Regions from separate parts of the Homo sapiens genome. Here region 2 is linked to region 1. A link means that fine-mapping ties the variant in region 1 to the expression of a gene that starts in the linked region. Tissue or cell type: whole blood. Region 1 holds a variant in brackets; the other region holds the start of a gene. All regions are shown on one strand. Distances are from middle to middle.

What was found. PIP is the estimated chance that this variant, and not a neighbour inherited with it, causes the effect.
Region 2: KANK3 starts here. The variant in region 1 is fine-mapped to the expression of KANK3 in whole blood (TOPMed, PIP above 0.99).

What each region holds. Positions count from the first base shown.
Region 1 is chr19:8,306,405-8,316,939 of GRCh38, forward strand. CD320 (CD320 molecule) reads right to left here and starts at 1,954. Exons shown (of 5, transcript NM_016579.4): 1 at 1,745-1,954. The coding sequence starts at 1,886. It overlaps NDUFA7 (NADH:ubiquinone oxidoreductase subunit A7), which reads right to left. Exons shown (of 4, transcript NM_005001.5): 3 at 10,092-10,241; 4 at 4,880-5,191. The coding sequence ends at 5,101. RefSeq lists enhancers at 717-1,457, 1,444-1,573, 1,458-2,197, 2,253-2,782, 5,537-6,139 and 1 more and silencers at 1,654-1,743, 1,718-2,056. The variant A/G (reference allele first, on the strand shown) is at 4,150.
Region 2 is chr19:8,338,409-8,348,943 of GRCh38, forward strand. It overlaps KANK3 (KN motif and ankyrin repeat domains 3), which reads right to left and starts at 4,854. Exons shown (of 11, transcript NM_198471.3): 1 at 4,817-4,854. It also overlaps the pseudogene LOC100129682. RefSeq lists enhancers at 1,862-2,362, 4,297-5,088.

The DNA.
Region 1 (10,535 bases):
AGATTCTGAGCAGGGAAGCTCAGCTGCTTGCCGACCTGGAGGGGCACGGAGGGGCCCGCAACCTGGGCCAAGGGACAGAGGAAGGGAGTGGCCTTTACGGCTTCCTCCTGGGTGCGGCCAGGGGAGGTGGCAAATCCGCCACCCTGGCTTAGCTTCACTCTGCCAAGGCCTTTAACCTCTTCCACCTTTACCCACCAGCCATGAGCCTCCAACCCCCCACTCCCCACTGCCAGCCCCTCCTCGGCCTTCAGGCCTAATTGCACCTACTTGCCACAGGGTCCCTGAGCTCTATGGATCCCAGAAGAGCTGTGGACAAACCGGTGCCTGCTTCCTTCCCCGCCCCCGGGAGATCTGGCAGCCTCCAGGTGTGGCTCTCCACCCAGGCGCAGACTTCCACAGCCCTGACACCTCTGACCTCCCTTCGCTGGACTGCGGGAGTGTGTATCCCTCTGCAAAGTGGACAGTAGAGCACAGCAGTCCCCGCCTCATAGGGTGTAAGCCTGACAGGAGTTACAGTGACCAGTGACTTTCTCTCCTGGCCTCAGTTTCCTCACCTGTAAACGGGGTATGCTGGGAATCCCTACCTCAACATCCTGAGAAAAAAGAGACTGTGTATAGAGTTTTGTCCTGTAATCCCAGCACTTTGGGAGGCTGAGGCGGACAGAACACTTGAGGTCAGGAGTTCGAGACCAGTCTGGCCAACATGGTGAAACCCCATCTCTACTAAAAATACAAAAATTAGCCGGGCATGGTGACGGTGCCTGTAGTCCCAAGCTACTCGGGAGGCTGAGGCATGAGAATTGCTTAAACCCGGGAGGCGGAGGGTGCAGTGAGCCAACATTGCACTGCACTCCAGCCAGGGCGACAGAGGGAGACTCAAAAAAAAAAAAACAAAAACTTTTGTACTTGGTTAACGTGAACGCTGCCTCCTTAAAAAAAAACAAACAAAAAAAAACCCAGGAACATTTAACGTGAATGTCAGGGACTTTGGGATGAGTCCAGGGACCTAGAAGTGCGGAATGCACAAAGGAGCTGGGAAAGTGTGTGAGCCTGAGCCCAGGGCTGCAAGTTGGGAGTGCCTGAGTGCACAGGGAGGCCACTCCAACCCTCCAGCTGCCTCTAGGGGTATCAGAGAGGGAGCCCGTCCCCACTGGCCACCAATACCTCTTAGGCCAGGGCGAACACGTCCACGGGGGTATATTCAACTTGTGACCCCAGTCTCTGCGAGAGCCTGCAGTAGCATGGGGGGGAGAGACCTCGCGTTCTCTAAGGATGGAGGACAAAGGAGGAGAGACTGGGAGGGCAGGGACGGTTGCGGAACGGTCACAAGGCCTGGGCGCGAGGGTTTGGAAGGCAAAGGTGCGAGAGGCACCAGGTGACCCGTCCTGCGTGATTAGCGGTCGGACAATCTGAGCCTGCTAAGAGCTTTCCTGACCACGCTGGTATGAAGGGCGGCTTGGAGGTGACAATGGGGGACGACAGGGCACAGCAGGTGTGGAGACGGTGTGCAGGGCCGGAGCAAAACCGTTAAAGGCAGGTGGAGACACCCTCCTCCCCTCCCCCAGCATGGGGTCTTCCTAGCACCAGTGCGCGCCTTCCCACAAGCGATGAAGTCCAAGTCCACGTGCTGGGGGAGTGTCATGAACTGACGTGCGGTGCAGCCAGTGACTAGGCGTTGTCGGTGCGCGGCGGCGGGGCGAAGCCTCGCGAGGGGTGGGAGCCCGCGCTGCGGGGCGTCACTCACCTGCGGCCTGGGCAGAGGTCGGGGTGGAAAGCGGGCTCGCGGCGGCCTCCAGGCCTAGTCCGAGGCCGAGCAGCAGCAGCAGCGCCAGGCCCAGAGCCCCTGTTCGCCACGCTCCAACCTGCGCCATCCAACCGCCGCTCATGCTGTCCCCACAGCGGCGCCGGCCACGCGCTGTCCAGACCGCTCTCTTATCCCTGCGCACGCGCACGCGCGGGGTTGGGGCGGGGCCCAAGCCCCTGAGTTCTGCGGCGCCCGCGGCTACGCGTACCGTAAATGTCAGAATAGCAGGGAAAAGAGAATTAGAGGCCCGTCCCCACTTTCCCCAGTGACCAGATCAGTTGAAAGGTATGGAGCCCGCTTGAAGTTAGAAACTTCTGGGGATGGGAAGGAATTTGTTGGTGTTCATTTGCATTATTTCCCGTTCCAAATGAGGACTGCTGCAAATGTTACTGCCTCGTGATCTTCTTTAATATGGCAGCCACGCCCCTCAGGCACTCCGCATTTCCTCCCTCATCCCACTGCTTTTGTGGCGCCGACAGGTAATTTATTTTATTTACTTATTCTGGTTTGTTGTCCGAGTCCCCATAGAATGCTAGCTACTGGAGGGCAGGGATCTTCTGTTGCTCACTGCTTTATTCTCAGGATCTGACACATAGTGCTTGACTCATAGTAGGCTCTTAGTAAACATTTGGTGAGTAAATGAATAAATGAAACGTCCATTCTCGGAGTCGGGTTGCTTGGGGGGGAAAAAGGAAAGGAAATCAATTAATTAATTAAATTTAATAATAAAGGCCGGGCGCGGTGGGTCACGTGTGTGATCCCAGCATTTTGGGAAGCAGAGGCGGGCAGATCGCTTGAGCCCAGGAGTTCGAGATCAGCCTGGGCAACACAGCAAGTCCCCGCCCGCCTCAAGAAAAAAGAAAATTAGCTGGGCATGGTGGCTCTAATTTGTAGTCCCAGCTACTCAGGAGGCTGAGGTGGGAGAATCACTTGGGGCTGCACTCCAGCGTGGGTGACAGTGAGACCCCATTTGTTAGAAAAGTTGGCCGGCGCGCTGGCTCACGCCTGTTAACCCCAGCACTTTGGGAGGCCGAGGCAGGCGGATCACGAGGTCAGGAGTTCTAAACCAGCCTGGCCAACATAGTAAAACTCCCGTCTCTACCAAAAATACAAAAATTAGCCGGGTGTGGTAACATGCTCCTGTAGTCCCAGCTACTAGGGAGGCTGAGATGGGAGAATCGCTTGAACCCGGGAGGCGGAGGTTGCAGTGCGCCGAGACCACATCATTGAACTCCAGCCTGGGTGACAGAGTGAGACTCTGTCTCAAAAAAAAAAAAAAGTTGTGGTCATAAAACTTGGTTCAGATGCCGTCAGCGGCATGCCTTGCCTAGGGTCTTGCCCTCCTTGTGGCCTCTGCACACCCTGCCTAGTCTTTCCTTCCCTCCTGACCTTTCTGAATCTGATTCATCCTTTTGCCCCAAGCAGAATCCCACCTTCTCCAGGAAGGTGTTAGCCTTTGTAGGACCCACTCTGGGACACTGGTACCTGCTGCCTGTAGCCGTGGCCTTTCCCCTTCCAGAGGGCAGGGCGGTCTCAGCACCCTCTTGGTCCACAGCTGATCTTTTTTAGCTGCTGAAGGGTCTGGGGCTGTGCCCTGGGGAAGCCATGACACTCCCCTGCGTAGGGTCACTGGGTGGCTCCTGCAGCCAGACTTGGACACCCTCCCTTTGCAGATTTCTGTCTCCTCCCCAGGAACCAGCTGCCTTCCTTCTGGGGCGAATTCATTCTTATCCCACAGCCCCAGCATAATGGGATCTGGCTCAGGGAGGCCTTTCCTGATCTGCCCTAGGTTTGCCTTCCCTGTGAGCAGCCCTTACTGTCCTCTGCCTTCCCCGTTGAGCTGCAGGGTGACCATGGTCAAGCAGGAGCCTCAGTGGGAAGGTGCTGAGGAAGGTTCATGTGAGAAGTGGCTGTGGGAGCCCTCAAGAGATGGAAGTTAGGCCAGGCGCGGTGGCTCACGCCTGTAATCCCAACACTTCGGGAGGCAGAGGTGGGCGGATCACTTGAGGTCAGGAGTTTGAGACCAGCCTGGCCAACATGGCGAAACCCCGTCTCTACTAAAAATACAAAAATTAGCTGGGCTTGTGGCAGGCGCCTGTAATCCCAGCTACTCGGGAGGCTGAGGCAAGAGAATCACTTGAACCCAGGAGGCAGAGGTTATAGTGAGCCGTGATCGCGCCATTGTACTCTAGCCTGGGCAACAAGAGCGAAACTCTGTCTCAAAAAAAAAAAAGAAGTGAGAAGTCTGTGGCTGGCCTACTGAGTGTCCGCACATACACCCCTTACCCCACCTGACTGGTCTTCACAATCAATGCTCCCCAACAGCCAGCGGTCCTGGGAGTCCA[A/G]CCTCCCAGAAGGATCACCCACTCCCACCACTCTCAAGGTCAGAGCCTGGCCTTTGGGGGAAAGGGCAGTGCTGTCTCCAGGGCCTCTGCACCCAGGGACAGTGTCTGTCCCACCCCTGGAGTGCCAACAGAGTTGGGAGACTCAGCACTGACTTCACCCCAAAATCCAAGTAAGCTGGGTATTGCTTAAAATCAGGGGCCAGGCGTGGTGGCTCACACCTGTAATCCCAACACTTTGGGAGGCCAAGGCGGGCGGATCACCTGAGGTCAGGAATTTGAGACCAGCCTGGCCATCTCTACAAAAAAAAAAAAAAATTAGCGGGTATGGTGGTGCACACCCGTAGTCCCAGCTACTCGGGAGGCTGAGGCAGAATTGCTTGAGCCCAGGAGGCAGAGGTTGCAGTGACCTGAGATCGTGCCGTTGCGTTCCAGCCTGGGTGACAAGCGCGAAAACTCTGGCTCCTGCAGCCAGATTTCTATCTCCTCCCCAGGAACCAGCTGCCTTCCTTCTGGAGCTAACTCATTCTCATCCCACAGCCCCAGCATAATGGTTTCTGGCTCAGGGAGGCCTTTCCTGATCTGCCCTAGGTCTGCCTTCCCTGTAAGCAGCCCTCACTGTCCTTTGCCTTCCCCGTTGAGCTACAGGGTGACCAAGGTCAAGCAGAGGCCTCAGTGGGAAGGTCTAAAAAATAAAAATAAAATCAGGCCAGGTGTGGTGGCTCATGCCTGTAATCCCAGCACTTTGGGAGGTCAAGGCAGGAGGATCGCTTGAGGCCAGGAGTTCAAGATCAGCCTGGGAAACATGGTGAGACTCTGTCTCTATTTTTTTATTTTTTAAAGTAAAACTAGAAGTGATACCTGAGCTCTACGTATTTGTCATAAATTAGGTCACATTCTCCCTGGAGGAAATCCAAGGAGGCAAAGTAGTCGGGTGGCCGTGAGGGTGCAGTGTCACAGGTAAGGCTGGTCCGAGGACAGCTCCCACCTCTTTATGGGAGGAGCTGGAGTCACCGCCTTCTTCTCAGTGGCAGCTACAGCAGAGCTGGAGGAGGGAAAGACTTCAGTGAGGGTTTCCAAAGAACAGTGTGGAAAGATCTGAGGGAGCCCACACCTGCCCCGGGACAAACACACCCACAGGGACTTTCTGGACCTGCAGGACAGACAGCAGGGTGTTCCAGAATGCCAACCCCTCCAACGCAGCCCCTCAGAGGATCAGCCAACGCCAGGTGGGAGCTAGCAAGCCTCCTCTCTCCCCTGAGCCCTGTATGAACCCCCTGCTGTGGCCCCCAGGCCCAGAACCCACTGTGGAGAGCTGGGCTCCTCCCTTCCCACTTTTGGTCTCCAGCGTACACAAGGCCCCCACCCCCATTCCTGCTGCCCCTCAAAACAGGATGCTGGCAAAAGGGCCAAGCGATCAGGTGACAATGGCCTCCAGCTATTCCTGCCTCAGACTGGGCAAGAACTGCATGGCAGGCGCTACTGTGTGGGCGCAGAGCCAGGAAGATGGGGCACCGCCCTCAGGAAGACTCAGGCTGGTGGGGCTGAGAATCCATGCGCAAATGGCAACTGCAAAACGCATCTCTGGCCCAGAGCTGGCCAAGAGGGAGCCCCCAGGAGACCCTGTGCCGGCAAGTCCAGGACGAGCACCCTCCCCTCTCACCCCACCCACCTGAGCCTGTGGAGCTCACACACTTCACAGCCTAAGCAAGAAAGGAAGCAGGAGGGTGGGGTGATGGAGGAGGCGCCCCAGGGGTGGAGGCACAGGACCTCCCAGGAGCCTCAAGGAAATGGAAAAGGCAGAAGTGGCCTCCCTGGGAAATGCACACATCTCTGGGGGCATGGCAAGGGGCTGTGTGGGAACAAGGTATCTTGCCACACTCTGGTGCTGGACTCCAGTGAATCAGAAGGTGACAACAAGGACCACTCCACTGAGTTCCTTCTTTTTGAGACAGACTCTTGCTCTGTCACCCAGGCTGGTGTGCAGTGGCACAATCTCAGTTCACTGCAACGTCCGCCTCCCAGGCTTGAGTGATTCTCTTGCCTCAGCCTCCCAAGTAACTGGGATTACAGGTGTGCACCATCACTCCCGGCTAATTTTTGTATTTTCTTTCTTGTTTATTATTTATGAGACAGGGTCTCACTTTGTCACCCAGGCTGGAGTGCAGTGGCGCAATCTCAGCTCAGTGAAGCTTCCTCGACCTCCCAGGTTCAAGAGATCCTTCTGCCTCAGCCCTTCAAGTAGCTGGGCCTACGGGTGCACACCACCACACCCGGCTAATTTTTGTATTTTTTGTAGAGATGGGGTTTCCCCATGCTGCTCAGGCTGGTCTTGAACTTCTGGGCTCAAGCGATCCACCCGCCTCGGCCTCCCAAAGTGCTGAGATTACAGGCGAGAGCCACAGCGCCCCTAACTTTTGTATTTCAGTAGAGGCAGGGTTTCGCCCTGTTGGCCAGGCTGGTGTCGATCTCCTGACCCCTAGTGATCCTCTCACCTCGGCCTCCCAAAGTGCTGGGATTACAGGCGTGAGCTACCATGCCCAGCCTAAAAAATTTCTAATAGAGACGGGGTCTCGCTGTGTTACTCAAACAAGTCTAGAACTCAAGCAATCCTCACACCTCAGCTTCCCGAGTCACTGGGATTACAGGCACACACCACTGCGCCTGGCCTATTCACAGAGTTCTTTTTTTTTTTTTTGAGACAGAGTCTCACTCTGTCACCCAGGCTGGAGTGCAGTGGCGCGATCTCAGTGAGCTGCAAGCTCCGCCTCCCGGGTTCACACCACTCTCCTGCCTCAGCCTCCCGAATAGCTGGGACTACAGGCGCCCACCACCACACCTGGCTAATTTTTTGTATTTTTAGTACAGACAGGGTTTCAACATGTTAGCCACGATGGTCTCGATCTCCTGACCTGGTGATCCGCCCTCCCCGGCCTCCCAAAGTGCTGGGATTACAGGCGTGAGCCACCGCGCCCAGACCTCACAGAGTTTTAAGTACAGAGCAGGCCCTGCCTGACCTCATCACCTCCCAGATCTCAGCACACTGCAAGTCTAGCATCCCTATTTTATATGTGAAGAAACCAAGGCTCAAGAAGGCTGAGGGACTGCCCACACCGTGAGTTGGCTGTAGAGCCCAGACCCCAACAGGAGTCCAGGAAAACTGGTTTGAAATCCTGCTTCTGCTTACTGCTGCCTGTGTGGCCCAGGCCAGTCACTTGGCTTCTGTGAGCCTCGATTTCCTCTTCTGCAAGAGGGGTCATCACCATCTAACTGGTGGAGTTATTAGGAGGTAGGCAGGACACTGACTCTGTGCCAGGCTCCAAGAGTTTACAAATATTAATTATGAGGACTAACCCTCGTAACAGCTTTCTGAAGTAGATGCTATTAGAGTCCCCATTTAATTAAGAGAAGACACCTGAAACCAGGGACCAAACTGCTTTTTGAGAGGAGCCCAAGGTTTATACACTTCTGTCTCTGAGAAGAATACATGGCTGGGCATGGTGGCTCACACCTGTAATTCCAGCACTTTGGGAGGCCGAGGCCAGAGGATCACATGAGGTCAGGAGTTCAAGACCGGCCTGACCAACATGGTGAAACCCCATCTCTACTAAAAATACAAAATTAGCCTGGCATGGTGGCATGCGCCTGTAATCCCAGCTACTTGGGAGGCTGAGGCAGGAGAATCACTTGATCCTAGGAGGTGGAGGTTGCAGTGAGCCGAAATCGCGCCACTGCACTCCAGCCTGTGCAATAAGAGTGAGACTGTCTCAAAATAAATAAATAAAATAAGAATTCATAATTATATCAACAGTAATGTCTCAGTTTCTCACAGGACCCTTGGAGGGACCCCGGACTTCATCTGTTTTGTAGGATGCAGAGTCCTGGCTGAGGCGCTAACTTCTACCCTCCCCTGGGTTGGACTAAATGAGCTCTTGCTGAGCATGGTGACTCTCACTTGTAGTCCCAGCTACTCGGGAGGCCAAGGCAGGAGGATCGCTTGAGCCCAGGAGTTTGAGAACGGCCTGGGCAACAAAGCAAGACCCCATCTCTACGAAACATTTAAAAATTAACCCAGCATGGAGGCCGGGCATGGTGGCTCACGCCTGTAATCCCAGCACTTTGGGAGGCCAACGCGGGCAGATCATGAGATCAGGAGATCAAGACCATCCTGGCTAACACGGTGAAACCCCGTCTCTACTAAAAATACAAAAACTTAGCCAGGTGTAGTGGTGGGCACTTGTAGTCCTAGCCACTAGGCAGGCTGAGGCAGGAGAATGGCGTGAACCCCTGGGAGGCAGAGCTTGCAGTGAGCCGAGATCACACCACTGCACTCCAGCCTGGTGTGGGGATAAGAAAGAGAAATCAGATTGTTAATGTGTCTGTGTAGAAAGTAGACATAAGAGACTCCATTTTAATCTGTAATCTTACCCCCAACCCTGTGCTCCCTGAGACATGTGCTATGTCAACTCAGAGTTAAATGGATTAAGGGCAGTGCAGGATGTGCTTTGTTAAACAGAAGCTGGAAGGCAGCATGCTCCTTAAGAGTCGTCACCACTCCCTAATCTCAAGTACCCAGGGACACAAAACACCACAGAAGGCCACAGGGTTCCCTGCCTAGGAAAGCCAGGCATTGTCCAAGGTTTCTCCCCATGTGATAGCCTGAGATGTGGCCTCGTGGGAAAGGAAAGACCTGACCGTCCCCCAGCCCGACACCGGTAAAGGGTCTGTGATGAGGAGGATTAGTAAAAGAGGAAGGAATGCCCTGTTGCAGTTGAGACAAGAGGAAGGCATCTGTCTCCTGCCCTTCCCTGGGCAATGGAATGTCTCGGTGTAAAACCCGATTGTATATTCCATCTACTGAGATAGGGGAAAACCGCCTTAGGCCTGAAGGTGGGACATGCGGGCAGCAATACTGCTCCTTAAGGCATTGAGATGTTTACGTGTATATGTATCTAAAGCACAGCACTTAATTCTTTACATTGTTTATGATGCAGAGACTTTTGTTCACGTGTTTACCTGCTGACCTTCTCTCCACTATTATCCTATGATCCTGCCACATCCCCCTCTCACACATCACACCCAATAATGATGAATAAATACTAAGGGAACTCAGAGGCCGGGTGGATCCTCCGTATGCTGAGCGCTGGTCCCCTGGTCACCCGATTTCTTTCTCTATACTTTGTCTGTGTCTCTTTCTTTTCCAAGTCTCTCATTCCACCTAACGAGGAACACCCACAGGTGTGGAGGGGCAACCCACCCCTTCAGCCTGGGCGACGCAGGGAGACTCCATCTCAAAACAAAAACAAAAACAAAAACAAAACAGGCCAGGCACGGTGGGTCACGCCTGTAATCCTAGCACTTTGGGAGGCCGAGTCGGGTGGATCACAAGGTCAGTTCAAGACCAGCCTGGCCAAGATGGTGAAACCCCGCCTCTACTGAAAATACAAAAATTAGCTGGGTGTAGTGGTGGGCACTTGTAACCCCAGCTACTTGAGAGGCTGAGGCAGAGAATCGCTTGAACCCGGGAGGTGGAGATTGCAGTGAGCCGAGATCACACCACTGCACTCCAGCCTGGGTGACAGAGTGAGACTCCGTCTCAAAAAAAAAAAAAAAAAAAAAATTGACCCAGCATGGTGGCACTAATCTGTAACACCAATTACTGGGGAGGCCAAGGAAGGAGGGGAGGATCACTTCAGCCTAGGCGTTCAAGGCTGCAGTGAGTGATGATTGCGCCATTGCACTTCATCCTGGGCAACAGAGCAAGACTCTGTCTCTAAAAACGAGTAAATGAGCTCTCGGACAAAAAGCTCCCAGCAGCACAGTTCCTGCGCAACTGATGCTTACTAAGTAGGATCTTGACAAGCACCCTTTCCACAAGTTGGGAGACAGAGTGGGTTGCAGGAGGGGGCATGGGGGCTGTGGTGAGCAGCGCTGGAGATCCTCACCTCTCTGCTGGCTTGCCTGACACCAGCGCCTTCTGCGACGACATGATGATGGAAGGGGGCACAGATTCCCGGCGGCCATCGCGAGTGCAATAGTAATTGTTGGAGAGCTTGTGGCTAGGACCCACAGGGAGCTTGGGAGGAGGCTGAGTTCTGAGGGGAAAAAAGATGAGCACTGAAGCAAAGAGACAGTCACTGTCATGGCCCCGCTGTGGGCCCCTGTCACCTCAGTCACAAAATGTGGGATCTACAGCCAGCCACTGGGATAAGCCACAGGCTGGGGGTGTCCCTTGGTACACTGGCAGGGACATATGCCTGGGGAGGGGTCCTGGGGCCAGAAGCAGATGGTGGACCCTGCTCTGGATGTGAAGATGCCACCCCCAGGGACCCCACCTGTCCCAAATGTGGAGGGTACAGAGGACCCTTTCTGAGGCTCCCAAGGCCCGG
Region 2 (10,535 bases), 32 kb after region 1:
AAAAGAAGAAGGTGACCAAGAAAACAAGGGTAGCTGGGAGTTGGGGAGGCATTCCAGACCTGCTGGGTTTTCTGATAATCTCTGGGGAAAATCAGAAATGGACGCTCTATGTAGTGGACTATGAGCCTTTAGGAAAGAAAGACCAGAGTTGGAAGCCCTTCACAGGATCATTAAAAACTCATCTAGGCTGGGCGCGGTGGCTCACGCCTGTAATCCCAGCACTTTGGGAGGCCGAGGAGGGCGGATCATGAGGTCAGGAGATCGAGACCATCCTGGTTAACACGGTGAAACCCCATCTCTACTAAAAATATAAAAAAGTAGCCGGGCGTGGTGGCAGGCGCCTGTAGTCCCAGCTACTCGGGAGGCTGAGGCAGGAGAATGGCGTGAACCCGGGAGGCGGAGCTTGCAGTGAGCTGAGGTGGCGCCACTGCACTTCAGCCTGGCAACAGAGCGAGATTCCGTCTCAAAAAAAAAAAAAAAAAAAAAAAAAAGGATGTAATTGTGCATCCAAATTTTTACCAAGGTCAGTTGTGAAACTCTTGCAGGAATGATGGGGAATTGCGGGCTGGATGCACCAAAGATCCAAATCAACAAATCAACGGATACTTGTCTCCCTGGAATGTCGCTAGCGGAGTGTCACAGGCTTGATCCTTGGCTTGTAAGAGTTTGTAATGCAAACACAAAACACCTGGGTTGTCAGAGCTGTGACTATTCATGGGGCTGCCTGGGAAAGTGACTGTTTGGATGACATGATGGAGGCTGTAAGAAAGTGAGGAAGATTGGGCCACATATAATAATGTGATATTTAACAAGGACAAATATTGAATCCAGAACTTTGGTTCAAAAAGCACAGGGTGAAATCTCAGCACTCTGGGAAGCCAAAGCAGAAGGATCGCTTGAGCCTAGGAGTCAAGACCCACCTGCGCAACATAGCGAGACCCTATCTCTTTTTGTTTTTTTTTTTTTTTGAGACAGAATTTCCCTCTTGTTGCCCAGGCTAGAGTGCAGTGGCACAATCTTGGCTCACTGCAACCTCTGCCTCCTGGGTTCAAGTGATTCTCCTGCCTCAGCCTCCTGAGTAGCTGGGATTACAGCCACTGCTACTATACCTGGCTAATTTTTTGTATTTTTAGTAGAGATAGGGTTTCATCATGTTGGCCAGGCTGGTCTCGAACTCCTGACCTCAGGTGATCCACCCACCTCGGCATCCCAAAGTGCTGGGATTACAGGCATGAGCCAAGGTGCCTGGCCACTATCTCTTTTGTTTGTTTGTTTTTAAATAGTGAAACCACCAAGCACAGTGGCTCACAAGCCATTGCTCTCCAGCCTGGGCAACAAGAGCGAAGCTCTGTCTCTAAATAAATAAATAAAATAGCGAAACCCCATCTCTACAAAAAACACAAAAATTAGCTGGATGTGTTGGCATGCACCTGTAGTCCCAGCTACTCAAGAAGCTGAGGCAGGAGTATCTCTTGAGTCCAGGAGATGCAGGCTGCAGTGAGTTATGATCATGCCACTGCATTCCAGCCTGGTTGACAGAGCAAGACCTTGTCTCAAAAAAAAAAAAAAAAAAAAAGAAAAGAAAAGAAAAGAAAAGCACAGGAACATGGAGTGGGAAAGATGGGCTTTGGAAAGCCCACATGGAAAACCTTCAGGGAGGGGAAAGTGCCTACGGTGTGCCCTTCCTGATTAAATGTCATCGCCATAGCTGGACACAATGGTGCATGCCTGTAGTCCCAGCTACTCAGGAGGCTGAGGCAGGAGAATCGCTTGAACCTGGGAGGCAGAGGTTGCAGTGAGCTGAGATCATGCCACTGCACTCCAGCCTGGGGGACAGAGCCAGACTCCGTCTCAAAAAAAAAAAACCATATATATATATATATACACACACACACACACACACACACACACAGCCCCCATACAACACTTTGCATACTGCAAAGTAGTATTATTATTCATATTTTACAGATGGAGAAACTGAGGCACAGAACAATTAAATCAGTTGCCTGTGGGAAGCACCCTCAGATTGGGCTCTGCCCATCTGCGGAACCCTTGTCAGCAGGTCCCTGCCACAGCTTCTGACTGCCCTTTACCTGTCCAGTCCTCCACTGACAGGCATCTGCCAAACCCACTTCATCCTCTCCCTGGGCCACGGCCCGTCTGTGCTAACCACATGGCAACACTCCCAGCCACCCCTTCTGGCTTCTCGAATCCCTGGGACCACCTGTGTGCCTGATGCTATGAAGCACTGAGCACCCACCAGCCCTCCTGACTCATTACCCTACTCCACCGCTGGGGAAACCGTAACTCCATTTCCCACTTCTGTCTGGCCGAGGTCCCTGACCTCTCCCTTCCCACTCCAAGGCCAGGCAGGGGGCCTCTTCCAGTCCCCAAGCAGCTGTTTCCCGTCCCTTCACACCAGCTGCAAGGGGTGGATCAACAGGCCAGCGGGTCATCGCAGAGGACAGCCAATGCCGTTCATCACTTGTTTTCAGGAAATTGCCAGGGAAGAACTGGGTTGTGGAAAAAGTCCAGATCAAGGGTTGGGGGGTCTGGGTCTACTTCTCACACAGCTGGCCGTATGACGCAATGGGGTCAGCGTCCTCCTCCGGTGACCTGGTCACACCCAAATCCCAGGCCCTGGGATCTCAGAAGACAGCTGTGGGCCATTCCTAAGACCTAAACTAGCTGAAGCAGTTGGATCCAGAGGCTGGGCTAAGAAAGGAATGGATCCCTCCAGAATGTCAAATAATAACAACGCTTTTGATATTTACTATGGGCCAGCCTCTAGTCTAAGGAATTTATGGATATTTACTTTTTTTTTTTTTTTTTTTAGAGGCAATGTCTCGCTCACTCTGTCACCCAGGCTGGAGTCAGTGGCTCGATCATAGCTCACTGTGGCCTTGAACCCCTGAGCTCAAGTGATCCGCCTCAGCCTCACAAATAGCTGAGACTACAGGAATGGACCTCTACACCTGGCTAATTCAGGCTAATATTTTAAATTTTTTGGTTTTTTGTTTTAGATGGAGTCATGCTCTGTCGCCCAGGCTGGAGTGCAGTGGCACAATCTCAGCTCACTGCAATCTCCGCCTCCCGGGTTCAAGTGATTCTCCTGCCTCAGCCTCCCAAGCAGCTGGGATTACAGGTGTGCACCACCATGCCTGGCTAATTTTTGTATTTTTAGTAGAGACGGAGTTTCACCATGTTGGCCAGGCTGGTCTCAAACCAGGCGTGAGCCGTGCCCGGCCTAATTTTATTTTTTGTAGATACAGGTGTCTTGCTATATTGCCCAGGCTGGCCTCCAACTCCTGGGCTCAAGCAATCTTCCCAGTTCAGCCTCCCAGAGTGCTGGGATTACAAGCATGAGCTACTGCACCTGACCTTGACTTATTTTTTAAAATCCTAGCTAAATCCACTGAGGTTGGATTTCCTATGATCATTGTCCCTTCCCCTATTGTACAGATGGAGAAACTGAGACACAGAACAGTTTAGTGTCCTGCCTGGGTCCTGTCATAAACAGGCAGAGGCAGGTTTTAAACCCAGGCAGGTCTTCCAGAGTCCTTGCTTTGGCCACTACACTTGAATGCTTTCTTTTATTTTTATTTTTGAGACGGAGTCTCTGTCACCCAGGCTGGAGTGCAGTGGCAGGATCTCGGCTCACTGCAACCTCTGAGCCCAGGGTTCAAGCGACTCTCCTGCCTCAGCATCCTGAGTAGCTGGGATTACAGGCACTTGCCACCACAGCTGGCTAATTTTTGAATTTTTAGTAGAGACGGGTTTCATCATGTTGGTCAGTCTGGTCTCAAACTCCTGACCTCAAGAGATCAGCCCTACTTGACCTCCCAAAGTGCTGGGATAACAGGCATGAACCACCAAGGAGCCTCAGGGGGCTTGTCCCTCCCAGCCTACACCTGTGTCAGACTCTGATTGGGGGCGGAGGTGCCCACCACCTCTGCGGCTTCAGGGGCTGGGGCCTCACTAAGTGGGGCGTTTAGCTGCCTTCCCTCTCCTCCGCTCCCTGCCCTGACTGTCACAGCTAGATCCGGATTCTGTGCCTGAGACCCCCTCATTAGGCCGTCAGAGCCGACGCCACACGCCCCCTCTCCCGCCCCAGGGACTATTTTGGGACGCAGAGCTGTGATCACCAAACCGGAGTGGTGGGGGCCACGGCAGGCCAGTGAGGATCCCAGTCCTGGGGAGAGGGCGCCTTCCAGGAGGCCCTGAGTACTGGCAGCCCCTGATGTCTGCTGGGACTCTCAGACTCTTGAGGTGGGTGGGTGGGGGACCGGTGGCGGCAGGAAGGTGGGTGTTAAAGTCATCATCACCCGTCCACCCCCAGGTCGTCCTAGCCGCACAGAGACAGAGCAGTTTCCTACAGGAAGCGCCGCCGGGCGGTTCCATCCGCTACCCATTGTCTGCGGGTCCGGGGGCCGTGCGTCCCTCCCCAAAACACCATTTCCGTGACACGCTCCCACACCCAGCCCAGCGCGAGGGGCTGGCTGGGGTCCCCAGGCCGTCCCGGGAAAGGGTCCCAGGGCCGGTTGTGGCATTAGGGAGCGAACGAGCCCCGCAGTGAGCTCCCGAAGGGCGAGAGGGGGGCAAGCCCACGCCTCCAGAGCCCCCCACTCTGCTCGCTACCCACCTGGGACTTCCAATGTGGGAGGGGTCCCGGCCAGAGGACACGACGCCCGCCCCGTCGCAGCGGGCAGAGCCCTCAGTGGGGCTGGAAACGCAGCGCAGCGCCGGGTCCCGGTGCGTCCCCGAATCCACCCACCCAGGGGTCCCCCATCCGTGTCCCCGCAAGCTGGCAATTTACCTGAAGCCGCAGCCCCAGCCGCGCCCGCACCCGAGCCCGCCCCCTCGAAGTCCGGGGACTGATTATCAAGGCCTTCGCCCTAACTGACGGCCACGCCAGCCAACCAGCACCCGAGGCTCTCCAAGCCGCCCAGTGGGACGGTGGGGTGGGACAGGCAGGCGGGGCCTGGAATGTAGGGGTGGTGACTGAGGGCGGGCCCTGGAGTGACGGTCGCCGAGCGCTGGCTGGCGGCATTTCTGCACCAGCAGAGGTCAAGTCTCTGCCCAGCGCCGGGCCAAGGAGCTTGGATTTGATCCACAGGCACGAGGGAGCCATGGGAGAACTATGAGTAGAAGAGTAACCCGGTGGGATTTCTATAACTGGCACTTATTTCGCAGTGCCTGGGTGAAGTATCAGGTCCCGGATCTTCCCCACCGCAGGGCCTCTGCACATGCTGTTCCACCTACCTGAAATGCTTTCCCTTGCACCTGTACACGTAGGTACTTTTTGAGGCTCCCCTACTGTTTTTTGTTTTGTTTTGTTTTTGTTTTTTGAGACGGAGTCCCAGGCTGGAGTGCAGTGACACTCACTGCAACCTCCGCCTCCTGGGTTCAAGCAATTCTCCTGCCTCAGCCTCCCGAGTAGCTGGGATTACAGACACACACCACCACGTCCAGCTAATATTTGTATTTTTAGTAGAGATGGGGTTTCACCATGTTGGCCGGGCTGGTCTGGAACTCCTGACCTCAAGTGATCCGCCCGCCTCAGCCTCCCAAAGTGTTGGGATTACAGGCGTGAGCCACCGCGCCCGGCCTTCCCTACTTTCTGAGGTTCAGCTTTTGTGTTGCTGCCCCCTAAATTCCTGACATAGCCCCTCCCCAGTTAGTATTTTTCTCATCACTCTATTGTATTAACCTAATAGCTACTTTTACTATCTGGAAAAAAAAAAAAAAGCAGACTCTGTTATTGGCAGGCGCAGTGACTCACGCCTGTAAATCCAGTATTTAGGGAGGCATAGATGGGAGGATAGCTTGAGCCAGGAGTTGAGACCAGCCTGGGCAACATAGCAAGACCTAGTTCTCAAAACAAAAGAAAACAACAAAACAAAAAGACAAAAACGAAACACTCAGTTATTTATTTGGTTTATTTTTTAATTTAATTTAATTTTTTTTTAGACAGAGTCTCGCTCTGTCCCAGGCTGGAGTGCAGTGGTGCGATCTTGGCTCACTGCAACCTCTGCCTCCTGGGGTTCAAGCGATTCTCCTGCCTCAGCCTTCTAAGTAGCTGGGATTACAGGCGCACACCACCACGCCCAGCTAATTTTTGTATTTTTAGTAGAGACAGGGTTTCACCATGTTGCCCAGGCTGGTCTCGAACTCCTGACCTCAGGTGATCCGCCCACCTCAGCCTCCCAAAGTGCTGGGATTACAGGCGTGAGCCACCATGCCTGGCTGGTTATTTATTGGTTTACCTGCTTGCCATCTCACTAAAGTGTCGGCACCAAGGCCAGGTGGGGTGGCTCATGCCTGTAATCCTAGCACCTCCTGAGGCTGAGGTGGGAGGATCTTTTGAGCCCAGCAGCTCAAGACCAGCCTGGGCAACAGAGTGAGACTCTGTCTCTAAATTAAGTGTCAGCACCATGGGAACAGGAAACTGGTTTTGATAACTGCTTTATCCAGCGACCCTAGTACACAGTAGATGCTTAATAAATGTTTGCTGAAATAATGTTTTCTTTTTCTTTTTTGAGTCAGGGTCTCATTCTGTTGCCCAGGGTAGAGTGCTGTGGCACAATATCTCAGCTCACTACAAACTCCGCCTCCCAGGTTAAAGAGATCCTCCTGCCTCAGCCTCCCAAGTAGCTGGGATTACAAGTGTGTGCTACGCCTAGCTAATTTTTTTTATTTTTAGTAGAGACGGGCTTTTACTACTTTGCCCAGGCTGGTCTTCAACTCCTTGGCTCAAGCAATCCACCTGCCTTGGCCTCACAAAGTGCTGGGATCACAGGCATAAGCCACAGCACCTGGCCAGAATATAGTAATATTTTAAAATGTATTTTAACATCTGATACTTTTTAAAAAAAAACAAAATTCCTGGGCTATTTTAATTGGTTGATTCTTTCAGTTAAAACTGTGGAATTCTGTCGCGTTTCCCCACAGAAACTCCATTGGAATTTTCTTCTTTGTTCCTTTGAGACAAAGTTTACTCTGTTGCCGATGCTGGAGTTCTGTGGCAAGACCTATGGCTCACTGCAGCCTTGAACTCCCAGACTCAAGCAATCCTCCCACCTCAACCTCCCGAGTAGCTGGGACTACAGGCATGTGCTACCACGTCCAGCAGGTTTCTTATTTTTGTAAGGACAGGGTCTCTCTATGTTGCCCAGGCTGGTCGCAAATTCCTGGGTTCAAGTGATTCTCCTGCCTCAGCCTCCCTAAATAGTGGCATAACAGGCATGAGCCGCTGCACTTGGCCTCCATTGGAATGTTTAAAATATATGTGTGTGTGTGTGTGTGTATATATATATATATATATATATATATATATATATAATTTTTTTTTTTTTTTGAGACGGAGTCTTGCTCTGTCACCCAGGCTGGAGTACAGTGGTGTGATCTCCACTCACTGCAAGATCCGCCTCCCGGGTTCATGCCATTCTCCTGTCTCAGCCTCCCGAATAGCTGGGACTATAGGCACCCACCACCACACCTGGCTGTTTTTGTATTTTTAGTAGAGACGGGGTTTCACCGTGTTAGCCAGGATGGTCTTGATCTCCTGACCTCGTGATCTGCCTGCCTCAGCCTCCCAAAGTGCTGGGATTACAGGCGTGAGCCACCGCACCCAGCCCTAAAATATTTTTATTGTGGCCGGGTGCGGTGGCTCACGCCTGTAATCCCAGCACTTTGGGAGGCCAGGGCAGGCAGATCACCTGATATCGGGAGTTCGAGACCAGCCTGACCAACATGGAGAAACTCCGTCTCTACTAAAAACACAAAATTATCCCAGTGTAGTGGTGCATGCCTGTAATCACAGCTACTTGGGAGGCTGAGGCAGGAGAATCACTTGAACCTGGGAGGCAGAGGTTGCAGTGAGCCGAGAGTGAGCCATTGCATTCCAGCCTGGGCAACGAGAGTGAAACTCTGTCTCAAAAAAAAAAAAAAAAAAAAAAAAATATATATATATATATATATATATATATATATATATATATAGTTGTAAAATAAAGCGTCCATAGATGCACACACACAGCAGATTCAAGAAACCACATAAAACAAATGTATACTCTTTCCCTAAGTGGCCTGAGGTAATCTGGGAAAATGGTTCGCTATTTACTTGACCCAGAGAACCCCACAAAATCATGCAAATCAAGAGGTTCAAATCTTCATGTTCACTTGGAGAACACTCATGAAACTGCCCAGGCCATCAAGGGTATGTATATATGAAAATCCACGAAGTATCTGAAAGATGTCACTTTACAGAAACTGTGTGTACCATTCCAACATTACAATGGTGGAGTTGGCAGGTGTGCCCAGGCCAAGCAGTGGGGCTGGACACAAAGTCAGTGGCCCAGAAAAAGTGCTGAATTTTTGCTGTACATGCTTAAAAATGCAGAGAGTGGCCGGGCATGGTGGCTCACACGTGTAATCCCAGCACTTTGGGAGGCTGAGGTGGGCGGATCACCTGAGGTCAGGAGTTCGAGACCAGCCTGGCCAACACGGTGAAACCCCATCTCTACTAAAAATACAAAAATTAGCTGGGTGTGGTGGCACGTGCCTGTAGTCCCAGCTACCAGGGAGGCTGAGGCAGGAGAATTGCTTGAACCCGGGAGGCGGAGGTTGCAAAGCCGAGATTGTGCCACTGCACTCCATCCTGGGCAGTAGAGCGAGACTCCGTCTCAAAAAAAAAAAAAATGCAGAGAGTAATGCTGAACTTAAGGGTTATATGTAGATTCTCTGGTCATTGAGCATATCCAAGTGAACAAAGTACCTAAGATGCGTCGCCAGACCTACGGAACTCCGGTCGGATTAACCCATGAATGAGTTCTCCCTGCCACACTGAGATGATTCTTACTGAAAAGGAACAGATTTTTCCTAAGCCAGAGGAGGAGGTTGCCCAAAAGAAAAAGATATCCCAAGGCCGGGCGCAGTGGCTCACGCCTGTAATCCCAGCATTTTGGGAGGCCGAGGCGGGTGGATCACCTGAGGTCGGGAGGTCGAGACCAGCCTGACCAACATGGAGAAACCCCATTTCTACTTAAAATATAAAATTAGCCGAGCGTGGTGGCGCATGCATGTAATCCCAGCTACTCAGGAGGAGGCTGAGGCAGGAGAATCATTTGAACCCGGGTGGCAGAGGTTGCGGTGAGCCGAGATCGCACCATCGCACTCCAGCCTGAGCAACAAGAGTGAAACTCCATCTCGGAAAAAAAAAAAAGAAAGAAAAAGATATCCCAGAAGAAACTGAAGAAACAAAAACTTATGGCATGGGAGTAAATTCAGCATTAAAATAAATGCAATTAAAAGTAAAAAACAAAAACAAAAAACAAAACAAAACCAACAACAACAACAAAAAACCCCACAAATGTATAGTTTAAGGAGTTCCTCCAGGGGGTAGTTCTCAACCAGGAGTGATTTTGCCCCATGGGAGAATGTTTGACAATATCCAGGAGCACTTTTGGGTAATGAGGAGGCGGGTGTTTTTGGCCTCTAGAGGGCGGAGGCCAGGAATGTAGCTAACCACCCTGCAATGCACAGGCCATCCCCAAGGACCAAGAATTATGTGGCCTGAATGTCAAGAGTGCTAAGTTTCAGAAACCCAGTGCTGAGATGAAGGTCATCGTCGCCTCCACCCGGGCCAACCAACTGCACTTGCCAGCTACCCCAGAAGCGCCTCCGTGGACTATGTCCTAGTCACAGCTGCCCCTCACTCCCTAAGTAACCACTGTTTTGTGACTTTTATTTATTTGTTTGTTTATTTATTTATTTATTTTTGAGACAGAATCTCGCTCTGTTGCCCAGGCTGGAGTGCAGTGGCATGATCTCAGCTCACTGCAGTCTCCTGGGTTCAAATGATTCTCCTGCCTCAGCCTCCTGAGTAGTTGAGATTACAGGTGCCCGCTACCATGACCAGATTTTTTGTATTTTTAGTAGAGATGGGGTTTCACCATGTTGACCATGCTGGTCTTGAGCTCCTGGCTTCAGGTGATCCACCTGCCTCGGCCTCCCAAAGTGCTGGGATTACAGGCATGAGCCAACACGCCCGGCCCTGTGTAGGTTTCTGTTTGTTTGCTTATTTATTTATTTCGAGACAGAGTCTCACTGTATTGTTCAGGCTGGAGTGCAGTGGTGCAATCAATGCTCACTGCAGCCTGGAACTCCTGGGCTCAAATGATCCTTAGCCTCCTGAGTAGCTGGGAGACAGGTGAGCGCCACTGCACATGTATAGTTTTATTATCCAAATGTGAATCTGTAGACACTGGAGTTTAGTCTTGCCCATTCAAAAAGAAAATGATATGTCTTTTAAGCTCCCCCTGCCCGTTTTTTTTTTTTTTTTTTTGAGACGGAGTCTTGCTCTGTTACCAGGTTAGAGTGCAGTGGCGTGATCTTGGCTCACTGCAACCTCCATCTCCCAGGTTCAACCGATTCCCCTGCCTCAGCCTCCAGAGCAGCTGGGACTACAGGCACAAGCCACCATGCCCAGCTAATTTTTTGTATTTTAGTAGAGATGGGGTTTCACCATGTTGGTC